Regions from separate parts of the Homo sapiens genome. Here all the other regions are linked to region 3. The links come from fine-mapping of genetic effects on gene expression. A gene starts in region 3. Each other region holds a variant in brackets. All regions are shown on one strand. Distances are between the middles of the regions.

Region 1 (2,763 bases), 85 kb after region 3:
AGAGAAATGAAATGCTGTGCTTTTACAAATGTCTATACAGGAATGTACATAGCAACCTTATTTGTCATTGCAAAAAACAGAGACAATTCAACGTTGTCAAGAGTGAATGGATGAGCAAGCTGTGGTCTGTCTATGCAATGGTATCCTACTCAGCAAGACAAAGAGATGGGCTAAGGATACGCACAGCCATAAGCATGAATCTTGACATAATTGGGCTGAAAGAAGCCATACATGAAGGAGTATATACTCTGTCATTTTATTTATGTAAAATTCTAGAAAATGTAAATGAGCCTATGGAGACAGAATGCATCAGTAGTTGTCTGATGTTAGGGGGCAGGGAGTTGGGAGAGAGGGGTTACCAAGGGGCGTGAGGAAATTGGGAGTGATGGATATGTTCATTATTTTGACTGTAGTGATAGTTTCACTGGTGTGTACATTTGTCAAAATTATCAAATTGCATACTTTACATTTGTGTAGTTTTTTCAATGTTAGCCGTACCTCAATAAAGCTGTTAAAAGACTATACTGGCTGGGTGCAGTGTCTCATGCCTGTAATTCCAACACTTTGGGAGGCTGAGGCCAGAGGATCACTTGAGCCCAGGAGTTCGAGACTAGCCTGGGCAATACAGAGAGACCCAGTCTCTACCGAAAAAAAAAAAAAAAAAAAAAAAAAAAAAAAAAAGCCAGGCCTGGTAGCATGCAACTGCTGTCCCAGCCACTTGAGAGGCTGAGGCAGGAGGGTCACTTGAGCCTGGGAGGTGAAGACTGTACTGAACCATGATCACACCAGTGCACTCTAGGCTGGGCGACAGAGTGAGACCCTGTCTTTAAAAAAAAAATAAGAGAGACTCTCTGGACCTCATGGTTGTGCGGATGTAAAGGAATTGTAGTAACAGTAATTCCAATTTCCCTAGTTCCTGTTCTCTTCTGACCAAGAACTTGGAGCTGCCAGCTAGTCTCAGCCTGGTGTATCTCGGAGTCCTCAGAGGCCATCTTACATGAAAATCGGTCTTGCAGCTACAGTCCCCCAGGCACTGTTCCTGTTATTGCTGAGAGCTCATTGCCTGTGAAGCTTCATGATGGCCCAGCACTCGCCCTGCTGCTGCTGACCAGGGGAGAATGCGGGTGTCCACTGTGGAGGCCTCTCTCCTCTGAGGACCCATGTGTGTGTTTTAAGGCCTGTGGCCATTCTGCATTCGGGTAGGAAAGAGGGCATCTCCCTGGTACTCACTGTGTCTTGGGCACTTTTTTACACTCACATCTCACAGTGAAAATAACGCCTCCAAGCCTCTTTCTCTGTGACCTCCCATGGCTGAGCAGAGACAGCTGCTAAAGAAACGTACTGTGCTGTTTTCTCACGCCCCATTCCTCCGCGTGTTCTCCCCGCCCTTGCATACAGATCAGTTCATACTCATACATGACTTCCTGCTGCTTGCCCTGTCAGACCACCTGACATGTCTGGACGAGTCTATCCTAGCATGGGCACGAGGCCTCAGCTGGGCATTCCCTCCCCACCGTGGGGCCAGGTCTTCATGGCAGCTTC[C/T]CCGGCAAGTACCACGTACAAAAGACTTTTCCATTTCCCAGTGCCTCTTCTTGGGCTCCAACTTAGAGGTGGAAGAGCCAGAAGGAGGGGAAAGAGGTGAAGAAAGAGTGAAGGATGGACCTGCTGCCCTTCCCCGGAGCTGTGGGTCGGGCTGAAAATTGAATGGGCTGTGGGGTTGATGTTTTTCTTTTTTTCTCATCCCCCAACCTCAATTCTCATCATGACATTTTCCAAACATACAAGTTAAAAATGAGCATAATGAATATCTGCAAACTCAACTTCCAGAGGTTTTAATTTTTTTTTTTTTTTTTTTTTTGAGATGGAGTTTCACTCTTGTTGCCCAGGCTGGAGTGCAATGGTGTGATCTCGGCTCACTGCAACCTCTGCCTCCCGGGTTCAAGCAATTCTCCTGCCTCAGCCTCCCGAGTAGCTGGGATTACAGGCATGCACAACGCCCAGCTAATTTTGTATTTTTAGTAGAGACGGGGTTTCTCCGTGTTGGTCAGGCTGGTCTCGAACTCCCAACCTCAGGTGATCTGCCTGCCTCAGCCTCCCAAAGTTTTAATTTTCGAATATAAGTTTTGAGTGGACTAACCTGGAATGAGTTTTAATTACTAAAATGAGACTTTTATCTTCTTTTTCAAAAATCCAGTTAAAAAATAATAGTATTATTATTTTGTGTTTTTTAAAAAAGATCCAAGTTCTACATGTAAACAGTCAAATGGTTTTACAAAATTTGTTGCAAAAAATAATCAGATTCTTGCCCTCTTCCCCCATCTCTCGCTTCCTATCTGGTGTTTAGTGCTTGTTTCTTAATGACCGCTTTTACTGTTACTTCTTGAATTTTGAGTTTTACGTATTAACAATTATCTTTAGAAAATGAGGATTTAGGTTCTTTGTCCTGCCCTAGTCTATACCACACACATCCACATTTCCTACCTCTTGATCTTCCTAATGCAATTATATCTTCATTTTCTTAGACTAGTAATGAGTGCTTGTATCATTATGAATATGTGCTATTCAGAAGTGAACCATTAGTAAACTAGGTATTTTTCTTTGTTTTTTTTCCCCCTTATTTGCATAGTTTCCTATGTACTTATCATGAAGGCTGGATATAGTTTATATTGGTGGTCTTCTTTAAGAAAACAAATATAAAATTGTAAACACAAAATTAGGTATAGGGTCTTGGAAAGGACTCTTGCAGATTAAGTGTTCTGAAAT
Region 2 (2,763 bases), 20 kb before region 3:
TGTTGGCTCCGTGTGTATGTCTTCTTTGGAGAAGTGTTTGTTCATATCTCTTGCCTACTTTTTAATGGGGTTATTTTTGTTGTTGTTGTTACTCCCTTCTTTTTTTTTTTCATGCAGAATGTAGATACTATTTGTTCTGCAAACTTTTCCCCCACAGTTGTTGGTAAATCTTGGAGGTCTTTCCTTACTAGTAGATAGAAAGCTTCCTCATTCTTCTTTTTTTTTTAATTGAGGTATGATTGACATGCCAAAAAGCTGTACATATTCAGTTTGTACATCTTGATGAGTTGAAAATAAATATATACCCATGAAACTGTCACCATAAAAAAGCCATAAACATAACCATCAAATCTAAAAGTTTTCTCTCTTCCTCTTTTTTTGTGGGTGTGATAATGACATTTAATATGAGCTCTGTCCTCTTAACACCATTTTAAGTATACAATACAGTATTGTTAATTATATGTGCCATGCTGTACAGCAGATCTCTAGGACTTGTTCATCTTGAATAGCTGAAGCTTTGTACTTTTTGACCAGCATTTCCCTGTTTCCCTCTCCCCCCAGTCCCTGGTAACCTCACTTTTCAAAGTCGTATGTGTATAAAGTATTGCATTACTGTGGGGCCTTAACTTTATTTAACCAGCCTTCTATTGATGGATATATGCTACTTATTTTACTGTTATAAGCAGTGTTACCATGAGCAGCCTTATATATGTGGACATTTTGGATTTGTACAAATCAATCTGAAGTGTAAAAGTGGAATGGGTCAAAGAAAGGATTGATCTTTTTTTTTTTTTTTTTTTTTTGTAGAGTCAGTATCTTGCTGTGTTGCCCAGGCTGGAGTGCGGTGGCACCATCGTGGCTCACTATGGCCTCAAACTCCTGGGCCCAAGCAATCCTCCCACCTCAGCTTCTCAAGTAGTTAGGACTACATCACAGCCAACTAATTTTAAACATTTTTGGCAGAGATGGGGTATTGCTCTGTTGCCTGGGCTGGTCTCAAACTCTTGAGCTCAAAAGATCCTCCCGCCTCTGCCTCCCAGAGTGCTGGAATTATAGGCATGAGCCACCACACCTGGCTGATTTATCTTAATTTTGATAGATGCTGTCAGATTGCCTTCCAGAAGTGGTTGCATCCATTTACATTCCCACGAATAATGTTTGAAAGTTCCTCTTTCTCCACAGACTCACCAACAGAGAATATTATCAACTAGTTGGATTTTTGCCAATGTGATAGGTGAAAATTATCTGTAGTGTTAATTTGCAGTTATTTTATGAGAGATTTTGATGATCTTATACATTTAAGAGCCAGTTGTTTTCCTTTTCTTTGAATTGTTTGTTCATTTTTCTCTTATT[T/G]GGTTATTGATGTTTTTCTCAAAGCTCTTTATGTATTAGGGAGATTCACTCTTGTCTGTGTTACGAGTTGTAAGTTCCTCTTCCCACAGTGTCACATGCTTTTGGTTTTGCTTATGGTGTATTTCATCACTGCCTTCTGAATTATGATTGCTTAAATTTTTTTTTTTAATTTTGAAATAATTTATGACCCAAAGAGTTACAAAGATAGTACAGAGAGTTCCCTTAAATCCTTCTTTCAGCTTCCCCTACTGTCCTCCAGAATTATGGTACAATGACTTTCAGTCAGAAAGGTAACATTGACTCAGTGGAGTTAATTAATACATAGATTTCAGTTGGGTTTCCCTAGTATTCCACCTAATGTCCTTTTTCTGTCCAGCATCCAATCTAGGATCCTGTTTTGATTTAGTAATGATATCCTCTGAATCTCCCATCTGTCACAGTTTCTCAGTCTTTTCTTGCTTTTCATGACGTGGACAGTTTTTAACAGTAATGGTTGGGCATTTTGTAGAATCTTCCTCAATATAAGTCCATTCAATGTTTTCTCATGGTTATATGAAGGTTATGGATTTGGGGGGAGAATAATGCAGAAGTAATGTGCTTTTCTACCAGTGTACCATGTCAGGATACATGATATTAACTCTGATTGCTTGGCTAAGACAGTGTCCAGCTGGTTACTCCACTGTAAAGTTTCTATTTTCCCCCTTGTAATTAACAAGTATTTTGGGGGAGGTACTTTGAAGCTACTGAAATATCCTGATTTTTCTTAAGCTTCTGATGCAGGGCAAGTGAGCCTCCAAATTGGAGATTAGCCAGAGGGGGTTTTTGGCTTTGCTCAGGAAAGAATTCAAGAGTGAGCCAGTGGTGTGAGACAGCAACTTTTATAGATGCGGTAGTGAAGGGCAGCAGCAGAGGAACTGCTTCTTCTGGAGCACGGCTACCCATAGGCAATGTGCCCAGAGCAGCAGCTCAGGGGCAGTTCTGCGGTTATACTTATACGTACTTTATTTATTATCATTATTATTTTATTTTTTGACAGAGTCTCACTCTGTCGCCCAGGCTGGAGTGCGGTGGAGCGATCTCTGCCTCCCTGGTTCAAGCGATTCTCTTGCCTCAGCCTCCTGAGTAGCTGGGACTACAGGCATGTGCCACCACGCCCGGCTAATTTTTTATGTTTTTAGAAGAGATGGGATTTCACCATGTTGGCCAGGCTGGTCTTGAACTCCTGACCTCAAGTGATCCACCCGCCTCAGCCTCCCAAAGTGCTGGGATTACAGGCATGTGCCACCATGACTGGCCTGTATTTTATATACAAATTAAGTGATGGGTTATTCAGAAATTTCTAGAAAAGGAGTCATAACTTCCAGATGTTGCCATGGCAATGGTAAACTGTCATGGCACTGGTGGGTGAGT
Region 3 (2,763 bases):
ATCGTTCCGCAGCACACAACTGTGCTTGCTCACCTGGCTTTGTCAAGGAAGGAGCTCTTCCATGGATATGTTTTTCTGTTGTTGTTCCAGATAACTTTTATCCTTTTAAGAGTGCCACCTTCATTTAGTTTAGTTTAGCCATTTTAGAGAGAAAGTGCTGAAACCGACTGTAAACTTGTCTGTCTTTTTTTTTTTTTTTTTTTTTTGAGACGGAGTCTTGCTGTGTTGCCCAGGCTGGAGTGCAGTGGCACGATCTTGGATGACTGCAACCTCTGCTTTCTGGGTTCAAGTGGTTCTCCCACCTCAGCCTCCTGAGTAGCTGGGATTACAGGCATGCGCAACCATGCCTGGTTAATCTTGGTATTGTTAGTAGAGATGGGGTTTCACCGTGCTGGCCAGGCTTGTCTCAAACTCCCGACCTAGTGATCTGCCCGCCTTGGCCTCCCAAAGTGCTGGGATTACAGGTGTGAGCCACTGCGCCAGGCCCTTTTCTTTCTTCCTTTCCTTTTCTTCATTTCCTTTCCTTTCCCTTCCTTCCTTCCTTCCCTCCCTCCCTCCCTCCCTCCCTCCTTTCTTTCTCTTTCTTTCTTTCCTTTCTTTCTTTCTTTTTCTTTCTTTCTTTCTTTCTCTTTCTTTCTTTCTTTCTTTCTTTCTTTCTTTCTTTCTTTCTTTCTTTCTTTCTTTCTTTCTTTTTCTTTTCTTTTCTTTTCTTTTCCCTTCCTTCCTTCCTTCCTTCCTTCTTTCTTCCTTTTTCTTTCCCTTTTTATTGACAGGATCTCACTCTGTTGCCCAGCCTGGAGTGCAGCAATCTCGGCTCATTGCAACCTCCAACCCCTGGGTTCAAGCAATTCTCCTGCCTCAGCCTCCCGAGAAGCTGCCAAGAGGCTAATTTTTTTTTTCTCCTGCCTCAGGCTCCCAAGAGGGCAATTTTTTTTTTCTTCGTATTTTTAGTAGAGACAGGGTTTCACCATCTTGGCCAGGCTGGTCTTGATCTCCTGACCACGTATCCACCCACCTTGGCCTCCCAAAGTGCTGGGATTACAGGCGTGAGCCACTGTGCCCAGCCTTGTCTTTCTTTTTAAAAGAGGGCCTGGCACTTCAGTTAAGTCTTTCTGGATGATCCAGGTCACCGCTCCAAATGGAAGTCACATGCTTGGTTGTGGAGCCAGTGGTATGGGCCCTCAGGGAGTATTTAGAACTCTACACTAAATGGCCCCAGTGGTTCTGCTTTTTGACACTTCCTTTTGTACTTTCTGCCACCCCCCCATTCTGAGATCCCAGTTATCTTCCCAATTCTTATAGCCCTTGGCATGCTTCTAGCAATGTCTTCTCTAAATGGCCTTGAGCTGGGAAATTTGATAACCAAATGTGTCAGAATTGTGCATAAAGCAAGAGTACTGAGTTATTTCTTTTATCATGAGTACAGTACGGAGCCTCCTGACTTTGTATCCCGTCATTTGCCTCATTCTGGGTTCTCCGCTACTCTCCAGGCCGCTGAGGTCCATGGATGCATAAGCCCTAGGAATGAGGAGGGTGCAGTGGACATGAATTGCTCTTCCTAGATCCTTGCTGCTTTTGCTCTAGAGAAAAGGATGGGATACCAGAGCCTGTCCTGGCTGACTCCTCCCTCAAAGGGGCTCGGGGGAGATGGGAGCACAGGGTGGGGCCAGCTGGGTCAGTGGTGCCTGAAGCTTCTGAGGGAGAGGAGAGTGGCTGGGCCCCACTGATAGTGTGCAGGAGGCTGAGGAAGGGACACTTGCCTCCTCCTCACTCTGGGTGACGATGGCCAGTGTAGACTGGAGAGAGCCGGAGGGACTGGTCTCCCCTCAAGGCCCGAAGCAGGACTGGCACCAGCGGTGAGATGGGCACCTGGGGTGGGGGCCAGGGGTCTCAGCCCATAAACACCCCACACGCCACAGCAGCACACAGGGGCTCCTTTAAATACACAGCTATGGGGACTCCCAAAATGCAGACGTACACTTGCACTCACAAGGGACGCACTTCCATAGCTGTAACAACCCATCAGGGAACTGACCACACACACTCCGGCGGGAGGTCCTCTTCACTTCCTTCCCTCCACGAAGATCTCTCCCCTTCACCACGGACACAGTGACATGTGCTATCCAATTGTGACAAACACATCATCTCTGAATTTGGACACTGGGGTCCCATTTCAGAAGGTGACAACCCTCACACCAACAACTGCACCTACTTTCTTACAGGGTTGGATGCCTATAACATGCCTGCATGGTGGGACAGCAAGCGGCTGATTGCCCGCACACACTCAGATGCACGCTTGCACACATGCTCACACATGCTTACATGCACACTCACACTTGCCTTCAGACACACATGGGTCCAGGCAGGGCCCTGGCTTGGCCTGACCTGCTTCCCCTGTGCTTTCTGCAGCTGCAGGGGGTGCTCTGCCCTCCTCTGCGGGGTTTCCACCCCCTCTGTCCTTGGGCCTTGGATTCTGGGGGGCTGGTGGACTGATGCCAACATCCTCCTCTCTCTCCCCAGGATTTTTGTCAACCGCAGCCTGGCGCTGGGGAAGATTCGTTGCTTTGGCTTCGACATGGACTACACTCTGGCTGGTAGAGAGGGCTGGAACACAGCGTATTGGGAGCTGGAGGGAGCAGGGGTGGGCAGCTGGGCACCAAAGCCCTGATTCTGTCCGGGCCTCTGCAGCCTACAAGTCCCCAGCTTATGAGGCCCTGACCTTCGAGCTGCTGCTGGAGCGCCTGGTGTGCATTGGGTACCCGC

Evidence for each region. PIP is the estimated chance that this variant, and not a neighbour inherited with it, causes the effect.
Region 1: its variant is the best candidate, but not a certain one, in a credible set for the expression of NT5DC4 in blood mononuclear cells (TOPMed, PIP 0.86).
Region 2: its variant is the best candidate, but not a certain one, in a credible set for the expression of NT5DC4 in blood mononuclear cells (TOPMed, PIP 0.71).

Annotation. Positions count from the first base shown.
Region 1 is chr2:112,804,331-112,807,093 of GRCh38, forward strand. No RefSeq gene overlaps it. Among named protein-coding and RNA genes, the nearest start is that of IL1A, 21 kb to the left of the region's middle. RefSeq lists enhancers at 978-1,087, 1,170-1,670, 1,318-1,657. The variant C/T (reference allele first, on the strand shown) is at 1,543.
Region 2 is chr2:112,698,985-112,701,747 of GRCh38, forward strand. No RefSeq gene overlaps it. Among named protein-coding and RNA genes, the nearest start is that of NT5DC4, 21 kb to the right of the region's middle. The variant T/G (reference allele first, on the strand shown) is at 1,354.
Region 3 is chr2:112,719,298-112,722,060 of GRCh38, forward strand. It overlaps NT5DC4 (5'-nucleotidase domain containing 4), which reads left to right and starts at 1,723. Exons shown (of 17, transcript NM_001393655.1): 1 at 1,723-1,856; 2 at 2,521-2,594; 3 at 2,689-2,763. The coding sequence starts at 1,783.